2 separate regions of the Homo sapiens genome follow, and region 1 is linked to region 2. A link means that fine-mapping ties the variant in region 2 to the expression of a gene that starts in the linked region. Tissue or cell type: transverse colon. Region 2 holds a variant in brackets; the other region holds the start of a gene. All regions are shown on one strand. Distances are between the middles of the regions.

What was found. PIP is the estimated chance that this variant, and not a neighbour inherited with it, causes the effect. A credible set is the group of variants that fine-mapping cannot tell apart.
Region 1: FHIP1B starts here. The variant in region 2 is the best candidate, but not a certain one, in a credible set for the expression of FHIP1B in transverse colon (GTEx, PIP 0.79).

What each region holds. Positions count from the first base shown.
Region 1 is chr11:6,230,467-6,238,402 of GRCh38, reverse strand. It overlaps FHIP1B (FHF complex subunit HOOK interacting protein 1B), which reads left to right and starts at 3,767. Exons shown (of 12, transcript NM_001098794.2): 1 at 3,767-3,859. It also overlaps a transcript of CNGA4 not described here. RefSeq lists enhancers at 3,353-3,432, 2,830-3,520 and silencers at 3,563-3,862, 4,043-4,092.
Region 2 is chr11:6,205,473-6,213,364 of GRCh38, reverse strand. It overlaps C11orf42 (chromosome 11 open reading frame 42), which reads right to left and starts at 7,808. Exons shown (of 3, transcript NM_173525.3): 1 at 7,678-7,808; 2 at 2,717-3,515; 3 at 2,230-2,453. The coding sequence starts at 7,749. The coding sequence ends at 2,323. FHIP1B (FHF complex subunit HOOK interacting protein 1B) reads left to right here. Exons shown (of 12, transcript NM_001098794.2): 12 at 1,498-2,020. The coding sequence ends at 1,859. The variant G/A (reference allele first, on the strand shown) is at 1,942.

The DNA of each region.
Region 1 (7,936 bases), 25 kb before region 2:
GTTCCTTTCACTGCTATCATCTTTCTCAGTCAACAAATCAAAATCAGAACACCCATAGGCAGGTGTTCTGTGTGCCAGGCCAATATTGTGCTAAATACTAGGAATTGGAGATGAATAAGACACGCTCCCCCTTCTCCAGAAGCTCACAGTCTGCTAGGTGAAATAGTCAGGCCAGCAGGTAATTACACATGAGGTAACTAAACAGCAGCAGTCATTGCCAGGCTGCTGATGAGTACTCTGTTAGCTGGATACACGGAAGGCTATTATAGTACACATGAAGTGGCCCTACAGAGCCTGGGTTCTGCAGGATGAATAGGAGTTGGGTACAGAGATGGGAGGGTGAAGAGCACTAGAGGCAGAATGCACAGAGTGGGCAAAGGCATAGAGATATCAAAAAGCGTGGGTGACTGGGCAAATATCAATTGGCTTATTTTAGAGGGCCTAGCGGGTAGTGGTGAGAGATGAGGTTGAATGATAGACAGAGGCCAGCTCAGGAGGAGTTCTGTCAGCCATGTTATAAAGCTTGGATTTTACCCAACGGCAATAGAGAACCTGTGAAGAGTTTTTCACAGTTCAGTGATAAAATCAGGTTTGTGTTTTTGGAGTGTGTTTTAGAAGAAAAACCTGTGGTCCCTAATTAAATTTTGAAAAACTCTCTTTTCCCATGGCTTCTTAATTTCTTTTTGCAAAGTATTACGCTTGTTAAAATAAAAAGACAACATTCAAAGTAATGCAACAAAATGAATAAAATCCTTTGTAATGCCATAATGTCTTGGTTTGCTGTTTCTTTTTAGTGTCTTTCATAAGCTCCTCTGTCTATTCCTTCTATGATGGTGTTTTTTTTTTTTCTTGGATTCTGTTCTAGGCTTTCTACTTTTGCCATCCTCCTAACTCTGTCTGATTGACGTCAGTCACCCACAGGACTTCCTTTCTCATATAGTGGCTCCCGAGAACTCTCCCTGAGTTTCAGTTATCTATATGACTAACTGCTCACTGGATGTTCCTACTTGGGTATCCCGCGGTCACCTTCAACCCATTGGGTCTATAACTAAGCTCATTATCTTCCTCCACTTTTTCTTCTAGAATTCCTATCTATGCCCTTTCAGCAAAAAAACCTATGACAAGCATTTATTACTATTTACTGTATAATGTTGTGGCAGTTAAAAAAAATGGTCACAAATTCTTCGACACCACTCCCTTGTGATAGTTTGTATAGCAGGAGTGATGTTGTGTGACTTCTAAGGCTAGATCATAAAAGGCCATGCAGCTTCCCTCTGGTTCTCTTGGAATGCGTGTTGTCTGGTAGCTCCCTCTCAGAATGTTCCCTCTTGGAACCTACCCATCACATTGTGAGAAGTTCTGTTTGACAGTTTGCCCAATGAGTTCAGCTTTTTCATTATCCCAGCCCAGGAATTAGATGTGTGACTGAAGAAGCCTCCAGATGCTTCCAGCCACCAGCCTCAAACCACCTCTAGATGTTCAAGCTTTACAAATAAGGCCCCAGACATCATGGAATAGAGACAAGCCATTCCTGTTGCATCTCGTCCAAATTCCCAGAATTTGTGCACATAATAAAATGGCTATTGTTTTTATGACACTAAGTTTGGGTTGGTTTGTCACATAGCATAGTAACCAGAACAAACAAACACAGAGAAAGGTGTACAATCCTTAAGTATATAGCTTAATACATTTTCACAAAGTGAACACACCCATATAACCAAGCACTCAGATCAAGAAACAGAACATCACCAGTGCCTCAGGAGCCCCACTCTGCCCCTTTCAGTCAATGTTTTTCCAAGAATAATCACTATCCTGAATTCTAATATCACAGTTTAGTTTTACCTGTTTTTGAATTTATATAAACTAAGCATTAGTTTTTAATTCTTCCTCTTATTTTCCTCTTATATCCACCCAATCATCAAACCATGGTGATCTACCTTCTAAAAATCCACATGTCCACTTCTCTGCATTTTTGCTACTCTAGTTTGGGCCTTATCAGCTTGTTTGGTCTTTTGCAAAGTTACTGTATAACTATCAATCTATGTATAAAATTCTTTATAGCTATCATCCCAAAAATAAAATCTAAATTCCTTAACATGGTTTATAAAGTTCTCCAGTCCATGTCTTCAGCCTCATCTCACAATGTTTCCTCACATGTTCCCTAGGCTCCCGACACACTGTACTGATTGCAGTTCTTACAGCACCTCCCACATGCTGTCCATTCTTCCTTTCCCTGGTATATGCTGATCCTTTGGTCTGAAACTTCTATTTCTTTTTAAATACTTTTTATTTGAACTAATTTTAGGCTTACAGAAAAGTTGCAAAAATAATACAGAGTTCTCATAAATTCCTTATCCATCTTCCCCTAACGTTATGATCTTACATAACTATAGCACAATGATAAAAACCAGGTATTTAACATTGGCAAAATACTTTTCTTTTTTTCTTTTCTTTTTTTTTTTTTGAGACGGAGTCTCGCCCTGTCGCCCAGGCTGGAATGCAGTGGTGCGATCTCGGCTAACTGCAACCTCCGCCTCCCGGGTTCAAGCGATTCTCCTGCCCCAGCCTCCCAAGCAGCTGGGATTACAGGCGCGCGCCACTACGCCCAGTTAATTTTTGTATTTGTAGTAGGGACGGGGTTTCACTATGTTGGTCAGGCTGGTCTCGAACTCTTGACCTCGTGATCCGCCCGCCTCGGCCTCTCAAAGTGCTGGGATTACAGGCGTGAGCCACCGCGCCCAGCCGGTAAAGTACTTTTAAAACTACATGCCTTATCTGAAACTTCTATTTTTCTATTTTAGTTTATCTTACTCTTGCTTGTTTCCCAAGACTCGGCTTAGACACCGTCACCTCCCGGAAGTCTTCCCTAAGCTCCTTCACCGTACCTTCCTCTCATCCTCTATACATGCAAATCATGCTAAGTGCTGCTCCTAGGTGGCCCCCGTAGTAATGTACTTATTACACTACGCTGCAATTCTCTGAGGTCCTGGAGAGCAGAGGCCGGTTCTAATTGATCCGGAATCCAGCTGGGCATGCAGGCACTTATTCCGTGTTCCTTGACTAAGTGCTCAAGGGGTGACGGAGCAGCACAGCACAGCGGTGTTGGGGGAGCCAGGGGCAGTCACCGCTGGGGTACTAAAGTAGAGACCAAGCTATGCACGACGATGGAGCAAAATGAACTAGAGTGCCCGCAGTCAGCCCTCTCTAGGGCTCCACTTTTCCGCAGGCCCGGCCCACCTACTGATTCCTCCTCTCTTTTCGTGATAGCCTCGCCCCTCCACACCCACTCTTCCACTCCAAGCGTCTCCTGGAATCCATGGCCCCACCCCTTTCTCGCTCGTCTTTCTTCCGGCTCCATCTCTCCCAAGCCCCGCCCTTCTGATCTTTCCCTGCCTGTAAAAATCGCCTCTCCTTAGGTCCCGCCTTCTGCCCTCTGGTTCCACCTTTCCTTCCCGGGCTCCGCCTCCGCCCTGCCGGCCTCCACCTTCCCAGAGGCCTTCGCCTATGACACGCCGGAGTCCTTCTGAGGGGCGGGGTTTACGTACGAAGGGACGGAACCAAGAGGAGAGGCGGTGCTCCTCCCTCGGATAGCCGTCGGCGACCCCGCCCTTGCGTTTAGCCGTTGCCAGGAAACAAGCGTCCTTGCTCGGGTTTGGTCCGGCTCAGCCAATGAGCTGGCACGCCATTGCCCAGTCGTGCGACGCCGGGCGGTTGCGTGTGGTGCGCGGGGGCGCGGGCTGCGTGTGGCGCGGGGCGGGGCGCGGCTGGTGCGCTTGAGAAGCGATGGCGGCGGCCTGAACTCACCTAACACCGCAGCAGCAACCGGGCCCGGCCAGGTTCGGCGTTCCGTGAGTGAACGGTACGCATGGGCCAGAGGGCCTGGAGAGTCGTTTGTGGGGATGAGAGACTGGGAAAAGACGGTGACGGGTTTGGTTACTGTACTGGTTGTGAGGGGTTGGCAGGTGGTGAGGGTCCGGGTGTGAGTGTCTAAGATAGGGAAGGAGGGTGAGAGCTTACAGGTGAGTGGACAAATGAGGGGCTGTGAGAGGCTGGGTGCTTTCGGAGGTGCCAAGTTGAAGGGACTCCTGAACGCGGTTTACTAGGGCTGGGGCTACTGAGGGCTGGTGTGAAGGATACCCTGGGACTAGAGTGAGGGGTAAGGCCTGCGCGAGGAGAGAGAGAGTAAAAGGCGCAGGTGGGAGCCTGCGGGGTGGCGGCAAATTGGTGAGGGAGTTGAAGGCGAGGCATGGGAGGAGGGAATTAGGGCTTGTGAGACTTGGATAAAGGTGAGAGGTTGGTTCTGAGGCCTCCTTCGATGGACTGCCCTGTCCAGTGAGAGCAATAGTTTTAGACAAAGTAGGGCAGCTTAGATGGAAGTGTTGTGCACCTGACTCCTCTGCTCCCATGGACTTTCCATATTCTGGAGGACGAGAAAATGAAGGTGTCATAGGCAATAGTACTATGGTAATGAAAGTCATATTTGAGGCTCAGACTTCAACAGAGTAATCACAGAAACTTCAGTTCCTTCGAGTTCCTTCTCTGGACTGCATAGTTGAAGATGGGCCCTCTCATGAAGGGTTTTGCGCTGTGACAGCTTGTGTTTTCTCTCTACTTGCTTCTGGACAACCTTATTCCACTGTTGCTCCTTACCTGTGCTTAACTGTGGGTCTTTGATTGGATTGACCATATTCAGTTGCTAATTCTACTTTTATGGAGGTCATATGGTTTGCCCTATACAGTACTATATTTAGGATCCCAAACAGGATGGCCTTACTCTCCTTTCTTACAGTTGAATTTTTTAAAAAGCTAGTTTATATTATATTTAAAATGTGTGTTTGATGAGTTTTGACATGTGTACACATCTGTGAAATCATCATCAGTCTCAAGATACTGAACATTTTAGCCACCTGAAAATTTATCTCTTCCTCTCCACACCCTGTAGTTGGGTTCATCTTACTAGCATTCTTTTAGGTCCTCTTCTCCCCACCAACCCAAATGCACGTGAAATTCTGGAAAGTTGGTTTGGCATTCAGTGATAATGGCCACTTTCACACTACTAAATTTTCCTCTCTACTGCTAGTCAGCCATGGGGTTGGGACATCCTATTCTTTCCAGACTCAGAAAGAGTTAAGTCTTTCCTTAACTCTACAGTGGACAGGGAGAGACCATTTCCTGAGAATTAGACAGCCTCAGTCCCCATTCTTTTCCAGAGTCTTAGCTTCAGAGCCAACTCCTATATCCTGTGGTATATTCTCATTGCTTCTTTCTGGAGTCCAGACAGGCCTCCATATTGGTAGAACACTTGGCAACTTGCCCAGTCAGTCAGAACTTACAGTTCAGAGTTTAGAGTAGTGGTTCCTAAACACTGGACCAAGGACCCTGTACATGATAAAATTATCATCTATCCAAGATGGAGGGAGAGAAAGACAGTATGGTTATTCATGAAGATAAATTTATTCTCAGAGATTATCATTCCTATTCTTTTGGTGTTGCAGTGCTCTTTCGTTGATGCAGTAATGGTAACAGTAGATGGTGGGTTAAAAAAAAAAAGATCTAATTTACCCAAATAAAAAGTGTCAACCCAATTTTTAATTTTAAAAATTATTTCTATAGCTTTATGAACTTCAGAAATTTAAAGTGATGATGGTGTGGCTGTTGTATTAGGTTGAGGAAGCATACATTTATACAATGATTCTGTATAACTTAACATCTGAACAGCATTCATGCTTTACATAGGGATTTCAAATTTTATTATACTGATTTATATAGATACCTTGTAGACAAAGACAGGAACTTTCATTTTATAGATGAGAAATTAAATTCAGTAGCCAGAGATCATACAGGGATACAGTGGCAAGGCTGAACCCAGAATTTTGTCTCAGAGTGAGAGAGACTTTGGGAAAGAAGATTTATAATAGACACTGAAGGTGATGTGGGAGGATTTTTTAATGATTTGTAATTGTTCTATTTCCAAAAGACAGAAAAGGGACTGTGAGAGTGACATAGGGATGAAGGTTATGTTTAATGCTGTCGCAGTGACATTGGAACAGGTATATATAATACCTGGATCACATCTTGATAGTGGATCATATCATGATAGTGATAGGATGAATCAAATCAAATATTAGATGGTTCTTAGGGACTGTCTAAATCCTTGTTATAATGGAGAAAGCACTGGATTTGGTAAGCTTATTGTTTGCTATCCCAAACTCTGTTGAAATAGTAGTGCATTAAGTATAATGGATTTTGATTTGTATCATATAGTGAGTGGTAGTTCTGAGAGGATGAAACATACATGAGGATGATGATGTAGAGATAGAAACATGTTTAGGGTACTGTGTTAATCATTTATTCCATATCTGCTCTGTGCCAGGCACTCTACTAAGTGCTAGGAGAATGAATTCGTTTATTCATTCAACAAATACTTCTTCAACATATAGTCTGTGCTTGTGATGCTCACATTTTATGGGATAACAACATGAATAAAACATGGTCATCCGAGCTCTCAAGGGATTTTCAGTCTAGTAGGGAGAGAGAGACACATGAAAACATAATTTCAATTTAGAGAGATAATGTGAAATGTGAAAATATATCATAATAGGCTGGGCGTAGTGGCTCACGCCTAGCATTTTGGGAGGCTGAGGCAGGCAGATCGCTTGACTTCAGGAGTTTGAGACCAACCTGGGCAACATTTTGAAACCCTGCCTCTACCAAAACAACAACAACAACGACAATAAAACCACCACCAAAAAAACCCACCAAAAATTAGCCAGGTGTGGTTGCACATACTTGTGGTCCTGGCTACTCCGGAGGCTGAGGTGGGAGGATTGCTTGAGCCTGGGAGGCAGAGGTTGCAGTGAGATGAGGTCACACCACTGCACTTCAGCCTGGGTGACAGAGGCCCCACCTCAAGAAAAAAAAAAAAAAAAAAAAGAAAATATATCATAATGAGTTGATTACTCCTTTGTATCTAGTGTCATCTTTCCCTGTATTCCAAGTATACATGTTTATTGATCTGTGTATCTCCACAAGTATCTCAAAATTAACATGTCCAAAACAGAATTCATAGTCTTTGCCCCAAAAGCCCGACTTTGCCCTCATATCCCCTATCTCACTCCAGGCAAGGACTACATTGTCATCTTTCATACTTTCTGCTCTTTTACTCCCTGCATTCAATCATTTGCTAGAATCTTAATACATTTCGCTCTGTGTTATCTCTCTTCTCTATATCTCCATTGCTACATCTTCACTGTCAAAGCTTTAGTTTAGCTCCCCCTCACCTCATATGATTTTTTTAAAACAATTTTTTGTCTTAAAACTTGCTATTTTCTGGTCCATCCCTAGAATGATTTTTCTGAAAATACACATCTGATCTCCGAACTCCTTGGCTTAAAAACTTTTGGCTCTTTGTGTCCTGTAGGACAACATCCAAATTTCTTAATATGGCATCATTTAGCTTCAGCTTACCTCTCCAGTCTCGTGTGCCACTCCCTAGTCTGTATTCTAGTTTGAATAAATTGTTCACAGTTCCCTAAAACCATGCTGCTTTTTTGAGCCTTGAAATCTTTGTAATAGCTGCTTCCTCTACTAGGAATGCCTTTTCTTCTCTGCCCAGTGAACTTTCCTTATCCTTTAGGATCTAGTTCAGTTTCACCTCCTTTTTGACATCTCTGTCAAGGTAGAGATAACTGTGTGTGACATGAGGATTCATTGCTGTAAAGAGGAGTCACTGTAGAATAGAGGTTCACTTTTGTGAATTGGATGGACCCCGCTGGAGTCAGATGAGGAGATCCCTGCAAGAAGCAGAAGTGATATTGCGGGGAGGGAAGGGAATGAGTTGGGACCATACCCTGACATCCCATTTGTCTGAGGGATGGAAAAGCAGGGAAGAAATGTGTAAGCTGAGCTCTAGTATAAATTCCTAGTAGGTGGTGTT
Region 2 (7,892 bases):
ATGTGCCAATGTAGTTGTGAAGTGTAGAGGAGTAAGGGATTTCACATCATTCATTATTTACTAATCGAAGTAGAAGGCAAAATGATATGCTGAAAGCAGAGATGGAGGCTTAATGAGAAAAGTGTATGGGTTGGGAAGAGAGTACCATAAAAGTTACTGCACAGCTGTGAAGTCTCAGGTAAAGTTCTTTTGCATGGTTTCTTCATGGTCTAGTATTGTGAATATTTCTTCCTTCTACAGTTCTGGTGCTGGGGTCACTTTAGAGGGGCCAGGTAGACAAGGTAGACAAGACACAGTCTAGGCCCTTAAGTTCACAGGTTAGTGTATGAGGTAGAAGACATAGAAATAAATTAAGTATGTTGAGTTAAGGGAAGTAAAATTGGGAGTCAGTGGAAGACAAATCAGAGGAGGCTTCCTAGAGAAGTGGGGATAGTAAAATTTCACGTAGAATGATGAAAAAAGTGGAGAAAAGAAAATTTAGGCAGAGGGAGCTACAGGCGCATGAAAAGTGCCTGAAGGGTTCCAAGATGATAGATGTGGATGCAAAAGCAAGGTGGGGTGTGGAGAGTTTGAAAAGAAATTGTAGGAGGAGTGTGAGCCTGATTGTGAAGGGCTCTGAATGCCAAATTTAATAGCTCGGTATGGTATTTCTGTAGCCAGTATTAGATGTAGGAAATGGGAATTGTTATTATGATCTAGGCCTTTATAGTAGATATGGATCCAGACCCAGAAATCTAGGCAGAATGTTAGAGGCAAGAGGACGTTGTTTTGAATGGCTCACTTGAGCCTAAGCTGACTTGAAATTGGCCGCAACCAGTGGGAGAGAGGCTTTGGTGCAGGACAGGGACTGGTGAATGGTGAAGTGGTGAATGGTGAAGAGCATATTTTGGAGGGACAGTAGAGCATGACAGAAGTGAAATTGTCACTGAACTATAATTGCATATATAGCCCCTGTGGATATTGTAGGAGCAGAGGATGTGGGTTGGGTGTTATAGATAGGCTGGGGAAGAGGGAAGTGGTTGACTAGTTCGGAAGGGTGATGGGAAGCATGAAATCAGGGCATGCTATAGACAGAGGAGAAATAGCTTGGTGGTGGTAGATTAGTGATTGGAAATAGGAGAATTCGTCAGGGTGAGAGGGCATGGAGAAGGAATGGATCTTAACTGGGAATGAAGTGGCTAAAGTGTTGATTGATTAAGACTGAGAAGGATGGTTGGCTGGGTGGGGAGGCTGGATAGAGGGAAAAAGGCTGGGCAGGCAGTATTTTTGGTGTTGGAGTGAGAAAGAACTCCTCACTCTACTCCTCAGAGTCAACTTCAGGGATGGGACAGGAAATGGTACCTGAGGTTCATTTCTGGTCCATTTTGTCCTTTTTTCCATTTCCTCAGAACCCTAAAGGAGAAGTCCAAGAACCTAGGGGGTGGGGGAATCTCCCCTCTCAGTCCAAGGGAGGTTCCCTGATCCCAGCACCTTCATGATACCCCTGTTTATTCCCAGTGAAGAGCCGGAGGCCATCCTTGGGGGAGTTACTCCTGCGGCATGCACACAGTCCAACCAGGGCCCGGCAGGCGGCACAATTGGTCCTTCAGCCTGGGCGAGACGGAGCAGGACTTGGCCTAAGTGGGGGCTCCCCTGGGGCTTCAACTCCAGTTCTACTCACCCGGGGCGGGGCCCCTGAACGCCAAGGTGAGGCTCTTCGAGTCAAGAATGCTGTCTACTGTGCAGTCATTTTCCCTGAATTTCTCAAGGAGTTGGCTGCCATCTCCCAGGCTCATGCCGTCACCTCGCCTTTCTTGTTGGAGACTTCAGAGGAAGGATCTGGCCCTCTCATCTCAGGCTGTGGGCCCCTCAATCCTTAACTTTCTTCCATGGACAATCAGGGCCATGGGTGGCCCGGGCTGGGGCTAGGGCACAGGCTCCTTTTTATGTTTGGAGGCAGTG[G/A]CAAAAGGACTTTTTAATTTATTTCAGATGAATGTTTTATGGAGAACTTGTTGCAATATGTATAAAAGGGAAATCTCTATTCTGTGCTCATTTTTCTTTCCCATTTTTTTCTGTGGGGCTGGGGCCCCAGAAAAGGTTGTACATAGTCGGGGAGGTGGTCAGAAGTATTTTCTCTTTGGTAAGGACATTGCTGCCAAGGTTTCAAGGTACCCCTTATGCCCTTAGAGGGTGAAGGGACTCTTCCCTCTTCTCTGGATCCCAGAAGGAATAAGCAGCATGGGCCCAGGATGGTTTGGGGGAGCAGCAGCTGATGTTTATTAGAGACCAGTACCCCTATGCCAGATCTTGGGGGCTTTGCCCCCGGAATCTTTTGCTTCAGCTTCAGTCGTCACTGTCGAACTCTGAGGATAGACCCTGCAGCAGGGGCAGGGACATGGAGTGCCCGTCGGGGTCCCTGGGGCCCCCACCCTGGGCTCCTGGTGGAGGGCTGCGGGGGCTGAAGAGCCAGTTCTCTGCCAGGGTTGGGGATAGTCACAGCTTGACTCATGGCTGGTCTTTTCCCCCCCTAGCTTTTCCCTCTGGTCCTCTGTGCCATCCCAATCCCCTTCCTAGGGCCTCCTCATTCCATCTCACCCTCCCCAGTCTCCCTCATTCCATCTCTTTCACCAGAGCCCTGTGCTGAGTAATGGATTCCTCACATACTTAATTCTCATGCCTTCTCCCTCCTTCACTTTGTCCCTCCCATCCATCTCATCATCATTTCCCCTAGTAGTACCTGACAGTATCTGGGGCCCCCTCCAGAAGGGGTTTCGGCCCTTGTAGGAGAATCTGGTGGGTTTGTCCTCTGGCCCTTCCTGGGGAGGTGGCGTAGGTGGGGCTGGGACAGGTGGGGGCACATCAGCAGCTTCAGTTGTATCAGCAGGTGCTGATGTGGGGGCCAGAGGCGGCATGATGCTGAGGTTGGGTCTGACCCAGTTGGCCCCATGGGGCAATGGGTCTTTAGTGAGAGGCTTCTGTGGTCCCAGCACGCCCTTAGACTGCAGTGAAAACTTGAGGCAGGAGAAGGCAACAGGTAATGACCGAAGTAGCCGGAGGAGCTGGGGCTCACGGGCTGTAGACGTCAGCCCCAGCTGCAGCCAGGAACAAGAGAAGACCTGGTAGATGACATAGATGCTGTGGGTGCTTCGGAGCCAGGGAAGAGTCTGCTGTAGGCTCACCTGCCCTGGTGGCAGCAACAGGAAGGCAACCTTCTTGCGCAGGTCACCCATATGTAGGCGGATCTTGCAGGGCTGTCCATCCAACATTCGCGTCTCTTCATAGGCTCTCTCTGCTCGGCCATTTGGTGAGTATTCCCGAGTGCAGTGGGCGAAGGCACCCTCAGATCCTGCCTGCTCCAGGAGGCTTGGTAGTGGCCCCACTGGTTTCAGTGCCCTCCGGCCCTGCCGACCTGGCAAAGCCAGGCGGGTATGGGCTGGGCGGGACTGTTTTACCAGCACACCCAGTAGGTCATAGCAGGCTGCATCTGACAGGAAAGGTACTGCTACTGCATTGGGCCCAAAGTGCTCCTCGATGACCTGCAGGTGGCCAGTTTATAGGTCAGGGACTTAGGGTCAGAAGTTAACTGGTTGCCTACTTTAAATTGACCCCCAGGTTCACGTTCAGTTACATCTCTATAATGTGTTCAGATTTATGCTTTCTGCTTACCTCCCAGCTCTCCGGCAGCAAAACCTTGAATGTTTACGTGTCAAACTATCTAAGTACTGGGAAAACATAAAAGAATGAGACTTTGTCTTTGTCCTAATATAGTTTAGTCTACTGGAGAACACAAAAATGTAAACAGTCTGCTATGTAAAATATTAATAGAGAGCAAGGTGTGAAGGAGACAGGAAGTGATTGAACAGTCTTTACCTTTCATGGAAAGAGGATCAAGGAAGGTTTCTAGATGGTGATACTTGAGTTTTGAAGCAATTATCTAGGTAGGAGAATGGTCAATTCAGGCATAAGAGTCGGTGAAAAAACTTGAATTTACAAATCAAGGGGGGCACATTTAGGAACACATAATTTTATATTGCTGGTATGTATGGTATGAGGAGGGAAAGGCACACAGGAACTAGATTATGAAAGGCTTGTGTGTATGTCAAGTGAATTTTGTCCTGAAGGCAGTGGGAAGCCGCCTGAAGGCCTCTGGGTAGGAGGAACAGGATCAGATAGGTGTTTCTGAAAGCTAATTTTTTTTTTTTTTTTTTTTTTGAGTCGGTTCTCCTTCGTCGCCTAGGCTGGAGTACAGTGGTGCGATCTCGGCTCACTGAAACCTCTGCCTCCTGGGTTCAAGTGATTGTCCTGGCTCAGCCTCCCAAGTAGCTGGAACTACAGGCACCCACCACCACACCTGGTTAGTTTTTTGTATTTTTAGTAGAGATGGGGTTTCACTCTGTTGCCCAGGCTGGTTTTGAACTCCTGAGCTCAGGCAGTCCGCCTGCCTCAGCCTCCCAAAGTGTTGAGATTACAGATGTGAGCCACCGCGCCTGGCCAGAAAGCTAATTTTTAATAGGAAGTCATAAAATAAGAGTATTGCAATACTCCAGGCAAGGCATAATAAGGTCCTGAACTAAAATAGTGAGGGAAGATATTAGAGATATTTAGGTTATAGAATTAGTAGAACTTAGTCACTCAGGAGGTAGGGAAAAAAGAATCCTCGGCTGTGCACCCTGGCTCATGCCTATAATCCCAGCACTTTGGGAGGCCGAGACAGGTGGATCACCTGAGGTCAGGAGTTGGAGACCATCCTGACCAACATGGTGAAACCCTGTCTCTACTAAAAATAGAAAAATTAGCTGGGTGTGGTGGCACACGCCTGTAATCCCAGCTACTCATGATACTGAGGCAGGAGAATTGCTTGAACCTGGGAAGCGGAGGTTGCAGTGAGCCGAGATGGCACCACTGCACTCCACAGAGTCTCAAGAAAAAGAGAAAAGAATCTTTAAGGATTCTTCTTAGGTGACTGGTTACATGGGTGATGTCTTTAATCAATAGTAGGTTACGCAGAAATAGATTTGGAATGTCCATTCTTATACCATATCTCTTACCTCATAGTATATGCCTTCTACCCTAGCTGCAAGGGGTAGTTCTTGTAGGGAATTTGAGGCCTCATCTTTATAATGTTAGTTACGGTATACTTTCAGGGATTTTAGTTAATCGTGTGTGTGTGTGTGTGGTTTGTTTGTTTGTTTGTTTGTTTGTTTCATCATGGCCTTTTTGGGGTTGGTAACCCTGGAAAGTTTATTTCATGACTAATTGGGAAACCTATAAGAGCCTCTCTAGTAATTGTACTTAAGTATGGTTTCAACCCATTCAGGATTTTGTGGCTGATGTTTCTGGTTCTCTGCTCTACTAGGGAGCAAGGGCACACAGAATTTCCTCTTTGGGCATCTCTTATATTTGAGCCCAGTGCTTACAGTGCTGTACTCTACTCCCTACCTCCAGGACCAAATTTCGCACATCTATGCCCCTACTGATGGCATTGCCCTCTTTGTTGGCCTTCTGGTAGAATTCACCAGTGGCTCCTTAAGGCTGATCTGCTTTTTCTACAAAGCTGTTTTGGAAGTACTGCCTCCTAGCATAAGAGGAAGGTAGCTAACTATGGAGTTGCATCTGCACCTTGGATAAGCTGAGGTAGCTTGTAGACTACTGTCTTGTCACCTGGCTGAAGGAATAACTGATGTTCTTTTGTGGTCTGCATGGGACAGTTTCCCATCATTCCTTCTCCTTTGCTTCACTGGAAAACACTTCCTTTTGGGTGGGGCTCTGAGAAGGACCAGTTGCGTTTCCAGGGAGAGAGCAGAACACTGGTGGGTTGACATTTTTGGATGCAATGCTTTGCCCCATGACCATGAAATCAGAGGCACCAAGCATGACATCAGAATCTCACACTAACTGCTCCTTTGGTGTCAAGGATCCTACACAAATAAGACAAATGGGAGTGTCTCTAGAAGAGGCCCCTCTGATAGGAGTGTGACATTTAATATATCTGGTGCTTATTATCCAAGTTTCTGCTAAAAGGGTGAATCTCTGGTTTAGCTGGAGGCTCTTTATTCCCCATACGCTCTTCCTATATGCTGACAGGCATTAAGTTGTCTAATTCTAACCCTCCTTAACCTTGACAGCCACAGTGGTTATCCTAAAATAGGAAAAATAAGGAGCTCGGTTCTTTGTTAGGGAGACTGTGTTCTTGGTAGAATCACTATTTAAGACTACTATGTGCTCCTACTGAACTTCTGCTTCTTCATAGAAATTATATGGACCTTAGGCCCACAAATTTAGGTTTTCCAGGGGCATCCCAGGAAAGTGATGGTGGAATATTGTTTTCCTAGATGTCTCTTGGTTGCTTCAAATTCTGAATGTGGAGCTCTTGAGCCACATTCTGTTTAGCCAAATGTTTTTACCATATGTTCAGTAAACTGTCCGTGGTTTTGGACACAGGAAACCAGGTCACTTAAAGGTGACCTAATCCTTGAATTTGCCCCGTAATGCCAGTGATTTATCCTGCATATCTCTACCCCGATTTTCCTGACAATTTTCAATTTAAATAGGATAGTGAGTTTTTCTGATACTCAGAGATGGCATAGCTTTCTAATAGTGGGAGACTGTTTATTTTCAATCTAATTCTGCTTGATCTAGTCCAGGACCAACCTTCTACACTGCTGAAACCAGTTGCTCTAATACTTGGGAAGACCTTGAGCTCTCCAGTTTTTGCTTCCCTGGGAAGCTGGCCTTTGTGGTAAGCAGCTACCCTATTTGGAATGGAAGCAGCATGCCATTAAATCTTCTTTGAGTGTGGTAGGCACTGCTTTAAGATTTTTTTTTTTTTTAAGCCTGGTAGGCTGACTTCTATGAATGTTTTAAATTCACCTTCCTTCAAATCACATAGAATCTGATTCTAAATTCTCTGATCTGAAATTTCCAGTCTGCAGCTGAAAAGTGATTTGGTAGGATTTGTTGGATATCTGCAACCCAGATACAGCTGAGATTGTCCTGCTCCTTAAAATATACAAATTTGCCTCAAAATCCAAATTTCTTATTTTGTGGAAGTTAAGGTGGAGGAGATCTGTGAAAGAGTTTCAGATAAAGTTCAGATTCTATAGGAAGCTGGTTCTATAGGAAGTCCTGGTTCTAAGACTAGCCCCTATATCTCTTTGGCTTTATTTTTACCACTGCTTCTTTGAACTCTGCTCTAGAAGATTATTAGGAGTTCTCAAATATGAGTTGTTCTTTTTCCTCTCCTTGTTTTTACAAATACTCTACATTTAATTACTATTAAATTACTATACACTCACCACCCTCCCATGCTCATTAATTCAGGTATTTATTAAGCACTTTTTGTCAGGTTCTCCTCTCCCTCTTTGTGTGAATAACTCCTGCTTGCCTAGCTAGAATGTCACTCTTTCCAGGAAGCCTTCCTGATCTCCTGTCTCACCCCTGACTTAGCGTATCTCCTCTTTGCTCATAATTCCCTATACGTTGCTTTTCAGTGAACCTTTTTTACTGTTTTTGTAGTTGTCATTAAATGGGGCGGTTCGTGCCAATAACTTTACTGCAGTGCCTGGCACATATGGAAGCAGTGAGTAAATGTTGGTTATTATTGTTTTCAGACTTCCCACCCCTTCCTACTCACAAGCTGCTGAGACCCATGCAGGTCACACTTCGTTGCTTCCTCTTTAGCCTCCTTACTTTACCTACCTTATCCTTGATGAGGGTCCAGGTGGCATCAGCTTCATCCAGTGTCAGCAGGTTGGGGGTACCCACCAACATGGTGGGGTATGGGAGGGATTGGGCAGGGCAGTGGCTGCTGCAGGAACCCCAGGCAGCCCAGGGAGGTGAGACCTGAGGTCTTGGGCCCTAAACCACTGCATGACATCATAGAGGTCCTGCTAGATAATTGTACCTTGGATAGG